Linked DNA regions of Homo sapiens. The protein of the gene in region 3 interacts with the protein of the main gene of each other region in a pairwise test. Each region holds a gene or a part of one and is shown on either strand. Other genes may lie near its edges.

What was found. The genes of interacting proteins can lie anywhere in the genome.
Region 1: the proteins of MAP3K11 (region 3) and KIF3A interact in a two-hybrid assay, tested with the Homo sapiens proteins (one study listed by BioGRID).
Region 2: the proteins of MAP3K11 (region 3) and KIF17 interact in a two-hybrid assay, tested with the Homo sapiens proteins (one study listed by BioGRID).
Region 4: the proteins of MAP3K11 (region 3) and KIFAP3 interact in a two-hybrid assay, tested with the Homo sapiens proteins (one study listed by BioGRID).

What each region holds. Positions count from the first base shown.
Region 1 is NC_000005.10:132,692,547-132,696,046, forward strand, and holds the end of KIF3A (kinesin-like protein KIF3A), read right to left. Parts: 3' UTR 85-3,500; downstream 1-84. UniProt on the Homo sapiens protein: Microtubule-based anterograde translocator for membranous organelles. Plus end-directed microtubule sliding activity in vitro. Plays a role in primary cilia formation. Plays a role in centriole cohesion and subdistal appendage organization and function.
Region 2 is NC_000001.11:20,715,208-20,719,465, forward strand, and holds the start of KIF17 (kinesin-like protein KIF17), read right to left. Parts: upstream 2,801-4,258; 5' UTR 2,500-2,800; coding exon 2,269-2,499; exon of another isoform or gene 2,142-2,268; intron 433-2,141; coding exon 286-432; intron 1-285. UniProt on the Homo sapiens protein: Dendrite-specific motor protein which, in association with the Apba1-containing complex (LIN-10-LIN-2-LIN-7 complex), transports vesicles containing N-methyl-D-aspartate (NMDA) receptor subunit NR2B along microtubules.
Region 3 is NC_000011.10:65,596,514-65,601,236, forward strand, and holds the end of MAP3K11 (mitogen-activated protein kinase kinase kinase 11), read right to left. Parts: intron 3,256-4,723; coding exon 2,881-3,255; intron 2,116-2,880; coding exon 1,778-2,115; 3' UTR 1,244-1,777; downstream 1-1,243. UniProt on the Homo sapiens protein: Activates the JUN N-terminal pathway. Required for serum-stimulated cell proliferation and for mitogen and cytokine activation of MAPK14 (p38), MAPK3 (ERK) and MAPK8 (JNK1) through phosphorylation and activation of MAP2K4/MKK4 and MAP2K7/MKK7.
Region 4 is NC_000001.11:169,920,829-169,924,695, forward strand, and holds the end of KIFAP3 (kinesin-associated protein 3), read right to left. Parts: intron 2,275-3,867; coding exon of another isoform or gene 2,238-2,274; intron 954-2,237; coding exon 848-953; 3' UTR 501-847; downstream 1-500. UniProt on the Homo sapiens protein: Involved in tethering the chromosomes to the spindle pole and in chromosome movement. Binds to the tail domain of the KIF3A/KIF3B heterodimer to form a heterotrimeric KIF3 complex and may regulate the membrane binding of this complex.

The sequences.
Region 1 (3,500 bases), on a different chromosome or scaffold from region 3:
AGCACAAAGAACCTGCTCATTAATATCAGGGTGGAAGTAACCACAAAGATAGTTGAGAAAAGCAGCAGACCACTACTACAGGCATTAGGTAAAAGATTTTTATTCTTATTTAACCATGCTGCATGTATACATACAATACCAATATATACAACTTGAACAAATACAATTTATACATAAAATACAATGAAAGCATGGCTTTTGAAACTGATGCAACAAACTGTAATTTGTAATTTTGGCCAGCATACAGTATTATAGTAATGCTACTGAAGTTATTCATTAAATTAGTCAGACTACAGTATAAGTTCAAAGGCACTAGAAACATCTATGTTTTCTTCTAGTATTTTTAAGAACAAAAAATAATTTAAAATAAAACAAATGTATACATTAGGAAATTGGGCAGACATTGGTGTACTTAAATGTAAACGCTACCCATTCCTTAATTCACAGCCCTGTAGGAAAGAAGACTTTCCTTAAGAGTTAAGGGGAAGGATATTAAAAACAGACTAAAAGGAAACAAACAAAACAAAAAACAACCAAAAACCATAATCATAGTTTTAAAAACATGTTACAGAGGAAGTAGCACCACCCCCTCCCCCAATAAAACCTTAAATTTTTGCTGTAAAAAGAAAAAAAAAACAACTCCCTTTCTCCAGAAAGGAAATGAAATGGCTTGTCAAATGGATTCTATTCATGGGGCAAACATGGAGATGCGACCCTTCCCTTGATTACTCATCTCATGCTTTATAAGAATCTAAACACAAATAGGAAACACGATGATAATTTTAACATCCTATTAGTATATGTAATTGTAAGGATTATTAAAGAAGATACTATAAACCAATAATTCTACCAATGCTCCTTTTAATAAATAAATATCACTTTTTAAATTAAAGGGAAAAGAGAATACCCATTCAATAACCTATTTATATATATGTGCCACTCATTTTAAATCTGCATATTTATTTCAAAAAATGAGCAAGTGTGTTCATCTATATCGTCTCACGAAATTAACACTGACCTTACAACATATTTCATTTGTGGACAAAGACACAGTAAATGTGAGGAAACTACAGAATTGCTATGACTGGAGCTAAATGAATAGCTCTGAAGTCAGTGTCCCATATTTGCATATAGATATTCAGACCAGGCTTGAGGCCAGGCGTGGTGGCTCACACCTGTAATCCCAGCACTTTGGGAGGCTGAGGCGGGCGGATCACAAAGTCAGGTGAGACCAGCCTGGCCAACATGGTGAAACCCGGTCTCTACTAAAAAAAAAATACAAAAATTAGCTGGGTGTGGTGGCGCAAACCTGTAATCCCAGCTACTCAAGAGGCTGAGGCAGGAGAATCCCTTGAACCCAGGAGGCAGAGGTTGCAGTGAGCCGAGATCGCGCCACTGCACTCCAGCCTGGGCGACAGAGTAAGACTCCGTCTCAAAAAAAAAAAAAAGATATTCAGGCCAGGCTTATGTATCAAATTTTGGTATTTCTGAGATGGATATTTAATGTCCATCTGGTATAATCAGTTTTAACATAATGCTTTTTTTAAAAAACTGCTATAGTAGGCGGGGTGTGGTGGCTCAGGCCTATAATCATGCCTGTAATCCCAGCACTTCGGGAGCCTGAGGCGGGTGGATCACTTAAGCTCTAGGAGTTCAAGACAGGCCCGGGCAACATGGCAAAACCCCATCTCTACAAAAAAATACAAAAATTAGCCGAGCATGATGGCATACAGCTGTAGTTCCAGCAACTCAGGAGGCTGAAGAGACAGAGGTTACAGTGAGCCGAGATTGTCCCACTGCACTCCAGCCTAGGTAATAGAGCCAGACTCCGTCTCCAAACAAAAAACAAACACCCCTGCTATAGTAGCCTGCTTTTAGAACTTCTCAATTGACTTTTTATAGATCGGCTTTTTATTTTGACTTTTTATAGATTTATTTTTATTATCATGGTAGGGTGGGATAGAAAAAATATCTAACATACTGGCTTAAATTTCCATGTTTTAAAGCTTGATTTAAAAGTTACTCCTTTCCTATTAACTGAATTGTTAAAGGTTAGAAACATGAACTTTTAAAAAGAAGCGTTTTTTTTAAACTGGTAAAATTAAGATTTCTTTAGAGTAATTACTAACAGAGTTAAATGTGTATCATCAAAAACATTTTATAATTACCAAAATATTCTGATCACACAAAGCTTTTACAAGACACATATTTACCTCAACTCTTCACAGTATCTAAACAATGCCCCACAGAGTTAAGTAATAAATTTCTAGCTATCTTACATACCACAAACAAATGCAGCCAGTGAAATGCAATTCTAATCACCTAGAAAATGTTCACCACACACAGGACATTCAGTATTCCAATTACAGAATGGACTTTAAATTTATGGGTACATTTTTATCGCCACCTCAAGAGTACTCCACCTTCACTCACCCCTACTCTATACACAGCTTTGTCATTTAAACTAGGATTTAACAAAACTTATTAAAATAATATTAATTTAATAAATACTAACTTATAAAGTCTCAAAATATTTTCAACCAATGTGTTTCAGGGCTGATTACATAATTTTGAAAACCACAAAACATATATTAAGTGGTTTAGGAGTAGCATAACTTTATTTTTATTTTATTTTTATTTTTTGAGGTGGAGTGTCACCCTGTCACCCAGGCTGGAGTGCAGTGATGCCATCTCAGCTCACTGCAACCTCCGCCTCCCAGGTTCAAGTGATTCTCCTGCCTCAGCCTCCCAAGTAGCTGGGATTACAGGTGTGCGCCACCACACCCAGCTAATTATTGTATTTGTACTGGAGACAGGGTTTCACCATGTTAGCCAGGCTGGTCTCGAACTCCTGACATCAAGTGATCCACGTGCCTCGGCCTCCCAAAGTGCTGGGATTACAGGCGTGAGCCACCATGCCCGGCCAGGAGTAGCATAACTTTAAAAAAATACAATAAAAGTTTCATAAGCAGCTAACAACAGAAAAAAATAATTATCTCTATTACAACTTACTTTACTATGAAATCAACATAGTTTTTATTTGTAGAGGAATATGGTCTAACTGGATTACCCAATAGAAGAAATTCAGAAAATAATATTTTATTTTTAAAATAGAAAAACAAAATAAAAAAGTGTTTTAAAGGCAAAGTATTTAAAAGATATTTTTCTTGCTTAGCTGTATTTTCTGGAAAATGGAGACTCTTCTTAACTGGGAGACATAAAGTAATTCCCACCAAAATTTAGAACTCAAAGAAAAGCATCCATAACACTTCAGAGTGAATTTTTAAAAATATACACGCAGGCAAAGATAACTGAGCAGTATTTAGCTTCTTAATTTTCCGCAACAGTAGATCCTTTATATTTACGTACAATTCAATGTTTCAAGAGAACATGAAACCAGAACTTAAGGTGTATTTGATTTGAACTCAAACTGGCAAAAAAAAGTTAGGAAAGGTTCAGATGAAACATTTTCAACTTGTTAAAAAACATGTATACTCGCA
Region 2 (4,258 bases), on a different chromosome or scaffold from region 3:
GTGATTGTTACAACCACTTCCTGGCCCAGTGCACAGGGTCAGCAGATCCATGGGAAATGCTCAACTAAGGGTTAGAAGGCAAAAATGGTGAGAGAAAAGCATGGACAGAATTTTCTCTGTTCTAAGTTTTTTTCCCACCACCTTTTCAGAACCCAGAGCCTTCTCTGCTGATCTGCACGGGTCAGGCCGGGCTCCAAAGACTTCCCGTGTCTCTGCCACCTGTCAGAAGTGCTCTGGGCCCAGCTGCAGCTCTGGCCCTGCCCCTTCCCTCTGCGAGGCCCGTACCTGGACGCTCTCGAACACGTGCTCGAAGGCCCTGGGGATGATGCCTCTCTGGGAGGGCGGATCCGGCAGGCCCTGCATGGTGAAGGACTTCCCGCTGCCTGTCTGGCCGTAGGCAAAGATGGTGCCATTGTAGCCCTCAGTGACGCCCTGCATGGGAGGAAGGCAGGACCCCGTGCTCAGTGGAGCAGGCACAGCAGGGCTCGGGACAGGGCTCCCTAACCCACAGACTCAGGGCCCTTCCTGGTCCCCCCACCAACAATGGCACTGGACTGTGGAGATAAACAAGGCGCAGCTCTGTCCTCAAGGAGTTGACTCTCTGGTGGGGTAGGAGCTGTCCCTGTGTGTGGATGGGGAAGAGCCTGAGCTGTGGGCTTGGCCCCCTGGGCTCACATCCATCTCCACTTTACTGACCGTGTGCCCTTGGGCTGGCCTTACTGAGGCAAATTGATAAGATGATAAGAAAAACACCTTGGGCCAGGCGGGGTGGCTCATGCCTGTAATCCCAGCACTTTGGAAGGCTGAGGTGGGCAGATTACCTGAGGTCAGGAGTTCAAAACCAGCCTTGGCAACACGGTGAAACCCTGTCTCTACTAAAAATACGAAAAATTAGCCGGGTGTGGTGGTGAGCTCCTGCAGTCCCAGCTACTCGGGAGGCTGAGGCAGGAGAATTTATTGAACCCAGGAGATTGCAGTGAGCCGAGGTCGTGCCACTGCACCCCAGCCTGGGCGACAGCGCGAGACTCCGTCTCAAAAAAAAAAAAAAAAAAAATCAATATCTTAAAGGGTAAGAGCAGCACCTGCGGGGCTCTCACAGGGTGCATACAGGGCTTCTTTCGTGCATGGGCACAGGAAGCACTGCCATACACAGGTGATGGCCCAATGTCTGCCTGCAATGCAGGGAGCTGGACACGTACAGGTGATTCTCGTGGCGGGCTATGGGGCGGGGCACACAGCGACAAGAGTCCAGGCAGCCAGCCGGCAGGGACAGGGAGTACAAAGAAGCGAAAACAGGATGGCACAGGAAGAACGAAGCACAGCTTTCCAGGCGGCAAAGACAGGGAGAACTGGGGGAGCTGGGAGTGGGGCTCGTACTTTGCCAGGTGACAGGAAGAGGAAGGCATTCCAGGCTGAGGGGTCAGCTTGAGTAAAGCCACACAGATGAGGTGTGGAGAGCAGGAGGGACTAGGGGAGGGGTGGAAGATGAGGCCTGGAAGGAAGAGAGGAGGCAAACCCGGTGCTGTTCCCAAAGTCATTCCCAAAGTCATTCTTCATTCATCGCTGTTTCTATTCATTCGACAGGGACTATGCTCAGCCTACGGACAAAGTGGTGAACGAGGCAGACACAGTTCCTGCCCTTGCAGAGCTCATGAGCTTGCAAATTCTAGACCTTAGTGTGGGCTTGGGGTGGATCCTGTATGGGTAGATTGGCCCAGAGAATTGTTCTGAGACCCCAAGGGCCCACATGGCATCTATGCCCGGTTCCACTGCAAAGACCCATGCTGTAACCAAAACAGGGCTAGGTGTGCCCCATCTTGCCAGTGAGGGAAGATAAAAAGTCACCATTCGGCCGGACGCGGTGCCTCATGCCTGTGATCCCAGCACTTGGCGGGCGGATCACTTGAGGTCAGGAGTTCGAGACCAGCCTGGCCAACATGGTGAAACCCCATCTGTACTAAAAACACAAAAATTAGACGGGCGTGGTGGCAGGCACCTGTAATCCCAGCTACTTGGGAGGCTGAGGCAGGAGAATCGCTTGAACCCGGGAGGCGGAGACGCTGGGGATAGTGCAGACCCGGAGGCGACATTAGAGGCAGGCTCTGGTTGTGTCCCGCCTGGACAAAAGCCTCCGGACCTACCTGTTCCCGTCCGCCTGCGCCCCTCGAGGGCCTTTCCTCCTGGCTGGGGGGCAGCGCAGCCCCCTGGGGACTCTCGGGGCGGCCTCATGCCCTGCCGCCTGCAGGGCGGCCTGCCGGGCGCCCTCACCTCCACCAGCGGATAGGCGATCTCGTTGTAGATCTGCTCGGTGACGTGGTCCACGTGGTAGGCGCCGTCGAAGGTGAACTGCTTGGGCGGCTCGTCGGCGGCGCCCGGGTTCTGGATGCAGCACTGGGCGCGCGCGCAGTCCACAGTCACCACGGGCTGGCAGCGCAGCTCTCGCTCCCGCTGGTTCATGGGACGGCAGCGCACGACAACCTTCACCGCCTCGGAGGCCATGGCGCCGCGCCCAGGACCAACGGGACCAGAGCTGACCCCCGCCCCGCCGGGGACTCCCAGCAGCCCGGGCCAAGGGGCGGGGCCAGCGCCGGCCACGGGGGGCGGGGCCTTGAGGCAGGGGCGGGGCCGCGGCGGGGGGCGGGGACCCCTCGGGGGGCGCCCCGGAGGGGAGCTGGGCGTCGCAGGACCCGAGCCGGGGCCGCCGCTTCCTCCCGCGCCCGGGCTCGCCCGTTTCTGAGGCCCGGCCCGAGCGGGGACGTGGGGGATCCGCGCTGCAGGCGCCGCCGCAGAACCCGAGCCCGGAGCCGCCCCAGCCGCCTGCCCGCAAGCTCACCGCCGCGGCGTTCGCGGTTGCTGGGCAACGCCCGTGGCGTCACAAGAGCGGCCCCGGGAACGCCCCGCCTGGCCCGCGAGCTTCGCCCGAGTGATCCCCGCAGCCACGCGCGGCCGCTTGCGGGAAGCGCCAGCCCTGGCTGGGCTCCTTTCGCGTCCGCTGCCTTCTCGAATCCGCACAGTCCCAGTTCAGAGATGTTACGCAGCTTGCCCGAGGCTGCGGCTAAGACTGGGGCCCGGGGCCCCAGGCTTGACTCCACCTCGGGGCTACAGAGATCCCAGGCCTCAGGCACGGGCCAGGGACCTAGGAAAAGCGGCAAGGACCTGTTGCCCCTTATCCACGTCCCCGTACTGGCTCAGGGAAAGGCTGCCCACCACCCACAGCCCCTGGACAGCTTCCTCTCATGCCACCCGTGTTATTTCTAAGACCCGAGATTGTAAAACAAACACTTTGGGAGCAAGTCTTTTGGGCCGGGCGCGGTGGCTCACGTCTGTAATCCCAGCACTTTGGGAGGCCAAGGCGGGTGGATCACCTGACATCAGGAGTTCGAGACCAGCCTGGCTAACATGGTGAAACCCGCGTCTCTGGTGGTGGGCACCTGTAATCCCAGCTACTCAGGAGGCTAAGGCGGGAGAATCACTTGAACCCGGGAGGCAGAGGTTGCAGTGAGCTGAGATTGCATCATTGCACTCCAGCCTGGGCAACAAGAGCAAAATTCCATCTAAAACAAACAAACAAACAAAAACAAGTCTTTTGGATGGAAGGCTGCCTGGCCTATCCCTCCTGGCTCAGTGCAAGTTCCCCAGCCAAAAGAGCACCTCCGTCACACCTCTGGGCGCTGGGCTCTTCCTTGCACTGAAACACTGAGTGTCGGCTACATGTCAGGCACCGTGACAGATGTTAGGGAGACAGCCCTCCTGCATGATCTAGCTGGAGAGACAGACACAGGAAACAAAATCCCACAAACAAAATCCCGAAAACGAAAATGTAATTACAAGCTGAATAATCAGTTCCATGCAACATATCTTTTTTTGAGACAGGGTCTTGCCCTGTCACTGAGGCTGGAGTGCAATCATAGCTCACTGCTGCCTCAACCTCAGGAGGTCTCAAGCGATCCTCCTAACTCAGCCTCCCGAGTGGCTAATTTTTTGTAGAGATGGGATCTCATTTTGTTGCCCAGGCTGGTCTCCAATTTCTGGACTCAAACGATCCTCTCACCTCGGCCTCCAAAAGTGCTGGGATTACTAGCACGAATCACTGCACCCAGCCTATGGAACATCTAAAAAAGGAACCTCACTCAGCCCAGGGTGTAGGGCAGGCATCCTGAGATTGACTGGAGCTGAAATATGATGGCTGAGTGGTTAACAAGGTGAAGGGAAGGGAGGAGGAGGAGGACGCCGGTCTGGGCTGTGCGGAGGTCCTGTG
Region 3 (4,723 bases):
GTGTGGTGGGAGAGGAATGGTGGCAGCTGGGAAGGATCAGGTGGGGGTGGGAGGTGGGGAGAGGACTCCAGGGTGCCCAGAGCACCCGGGCAGATGATACCCTTGCGCCCGATTGCCAGTTCTTCCTGAGAACGCTTTGTGCCTGCCCTCCTGACTCCCTGCCCCTGAACTGCAGACACAGAGTCTGGGCTGCCATGGGGCACCTGGGAGAGGGGAAGGGGGAGCCTGGGTTCCAACTCCTCTAACGTCAGAGGGGCTGAGGACAGAGGCCAAGGAAGGGACCCAGCCCTAGGGTATGGTGTGGGAGTGCCAGAGCCCCCATGGCAGTGTGAAGAGAATGGACAGAGGCCGAGGGAGGGACCCTGCCCTAGGGTATGGTGTGGGAGTGCCAGAGCCCCCATGGCAGTGTGAAGAGAACTGTCAGGGGTGCCAGATGCCATGGCAAGTCACCATACTGGGAGGTGGGTGGAACTTACTACTCTTTTTTTTGAGATGGAGTCTCGCTCTGTCGCCCAGGCTGGAGTGCAGTGGTGCAATCTCGGCTCACTCAACCTTCGCCGCCCGGGTTCAAGCTATTCTCCTGCCTCAGCCTCCCAAGTAGCTGGGGCTACAGGCACCTGCCACCACGCCTGGTTAATTTTTGTATATATATATATTTTTTTCAGTAGAGACGGGGTTTCACCATATTGGCCAGGCTGGTCTCAAAATCCTGACCTTGTGATCTGTCCGTCTCGGCCTCCCAAAGTGCTGGGATTACAGGCGTGAGCCACCATGCCCGGCCTATGGTTTTTTGTTTTTTTTTTTTTTGAGACGGAGTCTTGCTCTGTTGCCCAGGCTGGAGTGCAGTGGCGTGATTTTGGCTCACTGCAACCTCCACCTTCCAGGTTCAAGCAATTCTCCTGCCTCAGCCTCCAGAGTAGCTGGGACTACAGGCATGCACCACCACACCTGGCTAATTTTTGTATTTTTAGTAGAGATGGGGTTTCACCATGTGGCCAGGTTGAACTCCTGACCTCATGTGATCCGCCGGCCTCGGCCTCCCAAACTGCTGTGATGACAGGAGTGAGCCACTGCACCTGGCCGAGAAGAGCCTTGAATGACTGACCAAGGCTGGTGGATTTGGTCCCAGGAGAGGCATGCAGTACAAGGCATCCAACTGCCTATTGTTGGGGCATCAGGACACCAGGGTTGTATGATAGGTTGGGTCACCTGGTTACCTCCAAGAAAGGTGACAGGCTACATGTGGGGAGACAGCTTTTGAGTTTATTTGGCTTCTGGCTTCACTGGATCCCGAGGCTAAGACTCCAACCCTGGCTGGGGCAGCAGGAAGGCATCCAGAGAGCCCTGGCCCCAGATGACCCCCAGGGCAGGAGGTCCATGCTCTAAGCCCTAGGGCAGGGGCCGCAGTAGCAGGACTTGGTCAAAAGTGCTGGTGACAGCTGAGGCCGGCCCCTCTTCCCTGCACCTCCCCTCCTCCCTGCATCACCCCAGCAGGCAATTCCCTGAGACAGGCTCTGGTCCTCCCAACCAGCTGGGTACAGTGTTGGGCCCCAGTAGGGCAGGTGAGCTGGGGGGACCTACAGGTTTCAGATGTGGGGGCGCAGGTCCCCCTTCCAGTGTGAAGGCTTCCTGTGCAGTGTAGTGTTCCTGACCCCCAAAGGGGGGTGGGGTCCCTGGGGAAACTGAGGCAGCTGCAGAGGCTGACCCAGCTCCTGTTCCAGTGTATGCTGTGACTCCTCCTAAGGCAGCTGGAGCTCGGGGGAGTGGCCTGGCCCACTCAAGGCCCCGCTTCCGGCACCCACGGGGCCTGGGCACCCATGTCTTTGGTCTGTGCCCTGCAGTCCTGGGGGCCCCCCTGGAAGGGGTTGGCAGGTGGGGAGTCCCAGAAGGGGTCTGAGTCCGGGAACAAGGTCCAGGGTGCTCGGCGGGGTGCAGGCTGTGGTGATGGCAGGGGAGAAGGCCGTGGCCCAGCTGACACAAAGCTCCAGGGATCAATGCGGCTGCGAAGGGGCGAGGGCCGAGGTCGGCTGATGAGGCCCAGGGGTGGTGAACGTGGGGTGCCTGGGGTGCCAGGAGCAGAGCGTGATGTCCCCGGTGGGGGTGAGACAGTGCCTCCTGTGAGGATATAGGAGGGGCACAGGGTCAAGCAACCCCCAACTGCTGAGGTCCCCAAGACACTGTCCTGCTCTGGGCCTCAGTTTCCCCATGTGCACAGTGACCTACTTGACTCAACTTCCACCGCCCTTCCTGCTCCGTGGTGCCTCTGTTTTTTGTAATAGTTAGGAGTGAGGCCTCTGCAGCAGGCTGGCCTGGATGTGGATCCCGGCCCTGCCACTTACTAGCTGTGGGAGCTGTGGGTCCCTTAATCTCTGTGCCTTAAATTTCCTCATCTAAAAATGGGCATCCAGGAGCGCTTAGTTCTCTGGTTGTTATGACTAAATGAGACCATCTCGGGAAAGCCTTGCAAACAGTACTTGGCACAAGTAAGGAGCCAGGAGTTTGCTACGATTATGATTACATGTATGCTGTGTCGCCCAGGCTGGAGTCCAGTGTCATGATCACCGCTCACTGCAGCCTCAACCTTTCAAGGCTCACGTGATCCTCCCAGAGTGCTGGGATCACAGGCGTGCACCACTGCCTGGCCCGATTACTTCTTTTATTTCACAGCAGGCATCGCCCCCACCTGCCTGGACCACCTGATAGCTGAACTTAGAACTCTGCTCCCTACATGCGTCTTCAGTACCCCGAATGCCTGGTTCAGGGTCCAGCTGATGACTGTGGTCTCGGCCTTGCCTCCTTGCATGTCCCCACCAGCCACTCCTCCCTCCCTGGGAACCCCCGTCTCCCATATGTGAAGCAGGCCGGCTTCAGGCCACTCACCGCGGGGCTCCTCCTCACGTCGGGGGCTCTTGGCTGACCGCTGGCCCACAGGGATACCCAGGTCCAGCAACAGGGGTGCAGGAGTGGGCGGGGAGTCGGGCGTCTTGAGCGAGAAGCAGATGAGCGGGGAAGGGGGCGGCTCGGTCGGGCAGGGCGCGGGCGTTGGCGTGGGGGGTGTTGTCGGGGACTCCCCGCGCTCGCGTCCTGGGCCTCCCGGCGGCTGCAGGTCGCGGCCAAGGCCCAGCGAGGCGAGCAGGGCGGTGCCGCGCAGCAGCGCCCGCTGGATCAGCTTGGGCGTCCCAGAGCTGCTACCGCGCTCTGCGGGGACAGGCCTCTTGGGCTCCTCGGGCTCCAGGCTAGGCCGCGGGGGGTTACCTGCGGGCAGAGGCGGCACAGGTGAGGGTGTGGCTGGTGCATATTCCGGGTGAGGGCCCAAGACCTCTCCGTGGTCTTGGAACAAGGACTGAGTTCTGCCCTCTACTAGCATCTTCCCTGGTCCCACAGGTCCCATGGCCTCCCCATCACATACCCACATTCTGGCCTTTCACAAGATGGGCACTGGGAGGGGAGGGCAGTGCAGGTGGAGGAAGCGGCAGCAAAGCCCAATGGCAGCCAGCGACCCCAGACCCGAAAGATGGATGGGCAGTCCCAGTGGAGGCAGGCTGGGGCCAGGTCACAGTGGGCCTCTGTGGCCTGCCAGGGGCAACCTCCAGGCCCAGGGGCATGGCAGGTCCCACTGACTGGGACCGGCGCCCTGTGCTCTGTGCCCACCAGCTTCCTGGCTTGGCAGCCCTGCCCCTTCTGCCCACCCACCCCCGCTCCAGCTGTAGCTTATAAGATGCACACAGTCAACTCTAAGGTACATGGCAGCCCTGAGGGCATAAATCCCTGTCTCTATTCTAGAAAGGAGGAAAATGAGGTTCAGAGGGGTCAGTACCTTGCCCAAGGTCACAGCTAATTTACAGAGTATGTATTTGTGCCAGGCCTGAGCTGAATGGCATAGGGGCATTATGTTGTCTGATTCTCATGCCCCAGGGGTTCCAGGCTCAGAGAGGTTGAGGGCTTGTGCGGAGCTGTACAGCCAGTGAAAGGTGGAGCCGGCCTCACCCCAGGCAAGGGCAGTAGAACCTTTGCTCTCCACCATTTCCCAGCCAGACTCTGCCCTAGATTTCAAGACACTAGTGTCCTACCTTCCAGTCTAGGGTTGGCCTGACTCCATTCTAGACCACTTGGGCAGGGATGGGGAACCCCTCATTAAGGACAAGGGACTCTAGGATGGGCTCTCACAAGCCCTGATTTTGTCAGATCCCTCCTTGGCTCTAGAAACTGCTGTGGCTCTCCACTGTCACTAGGAGAAAGTCTGGCCTCCTTGGCTGGTCCTCTGAAGCCCTCCCTGGCCTTGTCCCTCTGCCTTTCCCCTCCTGCCTGGAGTGCAGCAGCAGGTTGGATGTCGGGAGGGAGAAATACAAGGCTGGGAAAAATGAGCTTCTACTATGAACCAGGACTTAGCTCACAGTCCCTTCTGTCAGCCCCAACCCTTACTCAGACTCTCTGCCTCTTACCTCACCCAACTCCCACCCCGGCCACTGCCACTGAAGGGACAAGGGAATCCTTCTAAAATGCAAACCTGTTAAAGACAGGTCTCTGCTTAAAAACTACCCATCACTTCCAGCTTCATTCACTCATTCATTCAATCAACATCTACTGACCCATGTGCCTTGGCCCCTGTCCGCAGCCCCAGTCCTGAGACTCCTCGGCTCTCAACTCTTCTCGGAGTTCAGCCAGGTTGCCTTTTCCTTGGGTATGGTGAGCTGCATGCCTGCGCACACACTATTCACTCTGG
Region 4 (3,867 bases), on a different chromosome or scaffold from region 3:
AGAACAAGTGAACAATTGGGAACTGGGTACCCAAGTGAGTGAAATATTCTGTTCCTTAGTTTTCCTTAATGCGACTTTTAATTAGCTTTCCCATGCTTTAGATACTAAATTTATGAAGAATAAAAGTTAAAAGCCAAATGCTAATCTTGTATCACTGCTTGTCTTGTATACTACTTGTCCTAGGATTTCTATATTACAACTAGGAAGATATGAATTAAAACCACCAAAGAGACTATAACCATAAATAACTTATGACATATGTTCCATTATTAATTGAAAACTCATAGTTAATAAACTTTGGGAAGGAAACTTTCAGGCACATGGCATGGAATATGAAGGTGATGTTCTTTTTATAAATTTTAAAGGTAGCATATATTATACAAATTACTCAAGAGTTTACAAGCAGAAAAAAAGGAGAAAAAATAAAATTCACGCGCACCCTATATTAACATGTAATTCGTAGTGAAATGTGTGAAATATAAACACATGACTTTCACTTATTCATTTTCACTTTACGCTTTTTAATTGAAATTAAATTAGTCACTTAACATACATAATGCAGTGTTTGTTTTCCAGTCTAGTAGCTTTTCAGCATTCAGTTTTGTGGCTCATGGGAAATGTTACTTAGCATCAAGATGTGGTTTGATGAGTGAACAATGTCAGTATCAACTGTACTTAACAGAAGACAGAGGGGCTGGGGTTAATCTGCAGCTAACAACATATAAAAATAAAAACAAACACAGACCCACAATAACATCAACATGCATTATTAGGCAAAGATCCAAAATTAACCCAACCCACACAGATTTCTTCTAAGCTGAGATTACACATGGAAACAGATACTTTATCAAGATCCATAGCCATAGTAGTAAGGTTCATCAGGGCGGAATCCATATGCTGTGGCAGGGCGTCCAAGAATGCCAACTGGTTGGCCAAAGCCATCCATTCCAAGGCTAAAAAAGAAAAAAAAGAATGATAAGCTATGTTTTTCATCACACATCCACAATGCAGATTAAGAGGCCTACATTTTTATACCACCAAGATTCTCTTCCTAGCAGGGATAGTGATTTAGGTGGATATCATTAACTTTTTTTTTTAAGGTTAATAGAGCCATTAAAAGTGTATATAATAAAATACTTCTAACAATGTGTGTTAAAAGTATGGGAAACCTCTGTCAGTAGGTACTATTTGAAACAAAGTGGAAGAATCAAATCAGAAAAGTTTTATTTAATAAATTACTTATATATGGCTCTTAAGCAAAAATATGAAAAGATTTTACATGCTAGCAATGATCAGTAATATATTGCTAGGGAATGATAAAAATAAAACTGTAGTAAAGTGAGTTTTGCTGTTTATAATGTCTTTTCATATGAAGATACAGGACTAATTCCACTTTTAGTAAAAACATGTGTTTGAGTTATATCAGTGAACTCTCATGCAGGGCCAAATCATACCATAAGCCTATGATTAAAAGAACAAGATAAGGAATTTGACAAAATTTGAAAATTAGTCAGATTTGATCTGCAAATCCTTCCTCTGATTCCTCAATGCAAACAATTACAAAACATATCTATTTCTTTTGAGTGACAGCAAGACAATTACAAATTTTGGTTCAACTTATTCTATGGGAATAACAGAAACCCAAAGATAACCTTCAGAGTTGTAAAGATAGCTTGAAGTATGTTAAACTTCATGATTATTATTTTAAAAAAATTACTTGTTGGTCTATTAATACATTATTTAGAGGAAAATCTGTTCTCCAAAGTCCTTTTTAAAGGTCAGGGAATTATCCAACACTTAGGAAAATGATAAAGTATTTATTTTGCCAGGCAGAACATGGTGGCCTTAACATGCTCATGCATAGCTCATGCAGTGAATGCTAGTGAGCTTGACTTCCAATCAATGGACACCATTTGTAATGCAGAAATGTAAGCTTTGGAAAAATAAAACATATTTAAATGATTTAAGATTTAAGTTTGCACTACATGAGATGGAAAGATAATTTTCCCTCAATAGCAAAAACTGAATGTGATGAAAAAATATATTCACATAGGCACTAACTCCCTGTCACACTCAGAGTGAGATTAAGTTGACACACTTTAGAAGTAACTATTAAAATGTTAAGGTTTTAAATAAATGTGTGAATGCGTGTGTGTGTTTGTGTGCACGCGTGCTTGTGTGTATTAAGATGGAACTAAAGAGTAAATGTAAAGAGCCAAAATACATATAACACATACTGGTCCAGTGACTCTGCCCTTTAGGAGAATGGAAGTTCTGAAATACAAGTTTCAGGTTAGCATTTGTACTGAGCGATTCTGGACAAAATTTGTTGTTTTGGGGTCCTTCTATATAAAAACTCTGTCTATAGTTTCTCAAAGTTGGTTGAAATTTTTAAGTCTACATTTTATTTTGAAATGGTAAAAATATAGGCACTTTTTCTAACTTTGATCTCATGGGAAGAGAGACTAAATTTTGTGATGAGGAAATCAAGAGGTAGCTTAAAAGATGCTTCAGAAATTAGTGGAATCAGTGAACTAAGAGACACTGGTATCAGCTTAAAATTAGAGAAGTTATTGAAAACTGTTCTCTGCAAGCACTAAGGCTAACAAGTAATCATGTATCTAAAGAACTCTCAATTATATAACTGTTGATTACATAGCTTGGATTTCAACTTGTTCCTTCTTCATCTTTTGCTTATTACCTGTCTTCAACCAGTCCTTATCTTTTTTAGCAACTCCTCTGAGGCCAAATAGCAGTAGACTTAGGTTAAACTCAAGTTAATCTTATGCTTGTTTCTCAATCTAGGGGCTATGGCAAGATCTATTTCAGTAATATGAAAACAAGAGGCATATGTGGGACAGTGAGGAAACATGCAAAGGCACCTTCAGAGTATCTCACAGACGACTTGTTAGCAATATCACTGTAATTCTACCTAAAAGAAGATGGTCCTCAGAAGGGAGTTCACCAGTCATTGGCACAGAACAAGGAGCGTCTCAGCTACAACGCTGGTTGTAGCAACCTAGGCAATTGCGTGGTGATCTGGTAAGCTATAACACCATAAGGAATATCTGGCCTTTTTGCAGTTTGGTCCTCAATCAGGAAGGGAATTTAACATTCTCAGAGTCTGAGGCCATTCTACATTCAAGTTGCAAAATTCTCCCCCTTTTTTTTATTTCTACGACTAATAGGCAAACTATTGATCACTGTAATTTCCCATGTAATTTGCCAACAGGTTAAATAATAAACTTAGATATTACCTAATCCACCTGATGGTTATAACTTTCATTGTACATTAACAAATGGATTTTTCTTTTTAAAATATGTCATGCACATTGTTGATAAAAACCTGCAGTCCCAAGTCAGTGAAAGACTGGCCCTTGAGCACTGATGAGTCTGAGTTTCTGAACCTGTAAATCTCTGGTCTTGAACAGTATGGTCTTTAGGTTACTATGGTAAAGATCTATTTATGTAGTCAGCAGTTCACCCAGAGACATCTGTGTGTATTACAGTGTAGAGGATATCATTTAATTTTTCGAATTTCTATATACAAATATCGTTTTGGAAAAAAGGAATAAAATTTGAAACCAAACTCTAAAATGATCTTTTCTGGAATTCTCCATTATGTATCACAGATGAACTTGCTGTTTAAAGCAAAAAATATTTAAAACATTTATGATCAGTTTGGAGAGTACTTTGACATAGGTCCTAGGTCCTTTTGTATTATGAAAAATCAACTATATCTACATACATTTTTAATTAAATTCACTGTGAAACATAACAGTTTGTTTCTTTAAACTCTCATTTGCTTCTTTCTAATATAGTGGGGGAAATCAGGCTTTCTAGGATGCTAAAACCTGGAGACATTCT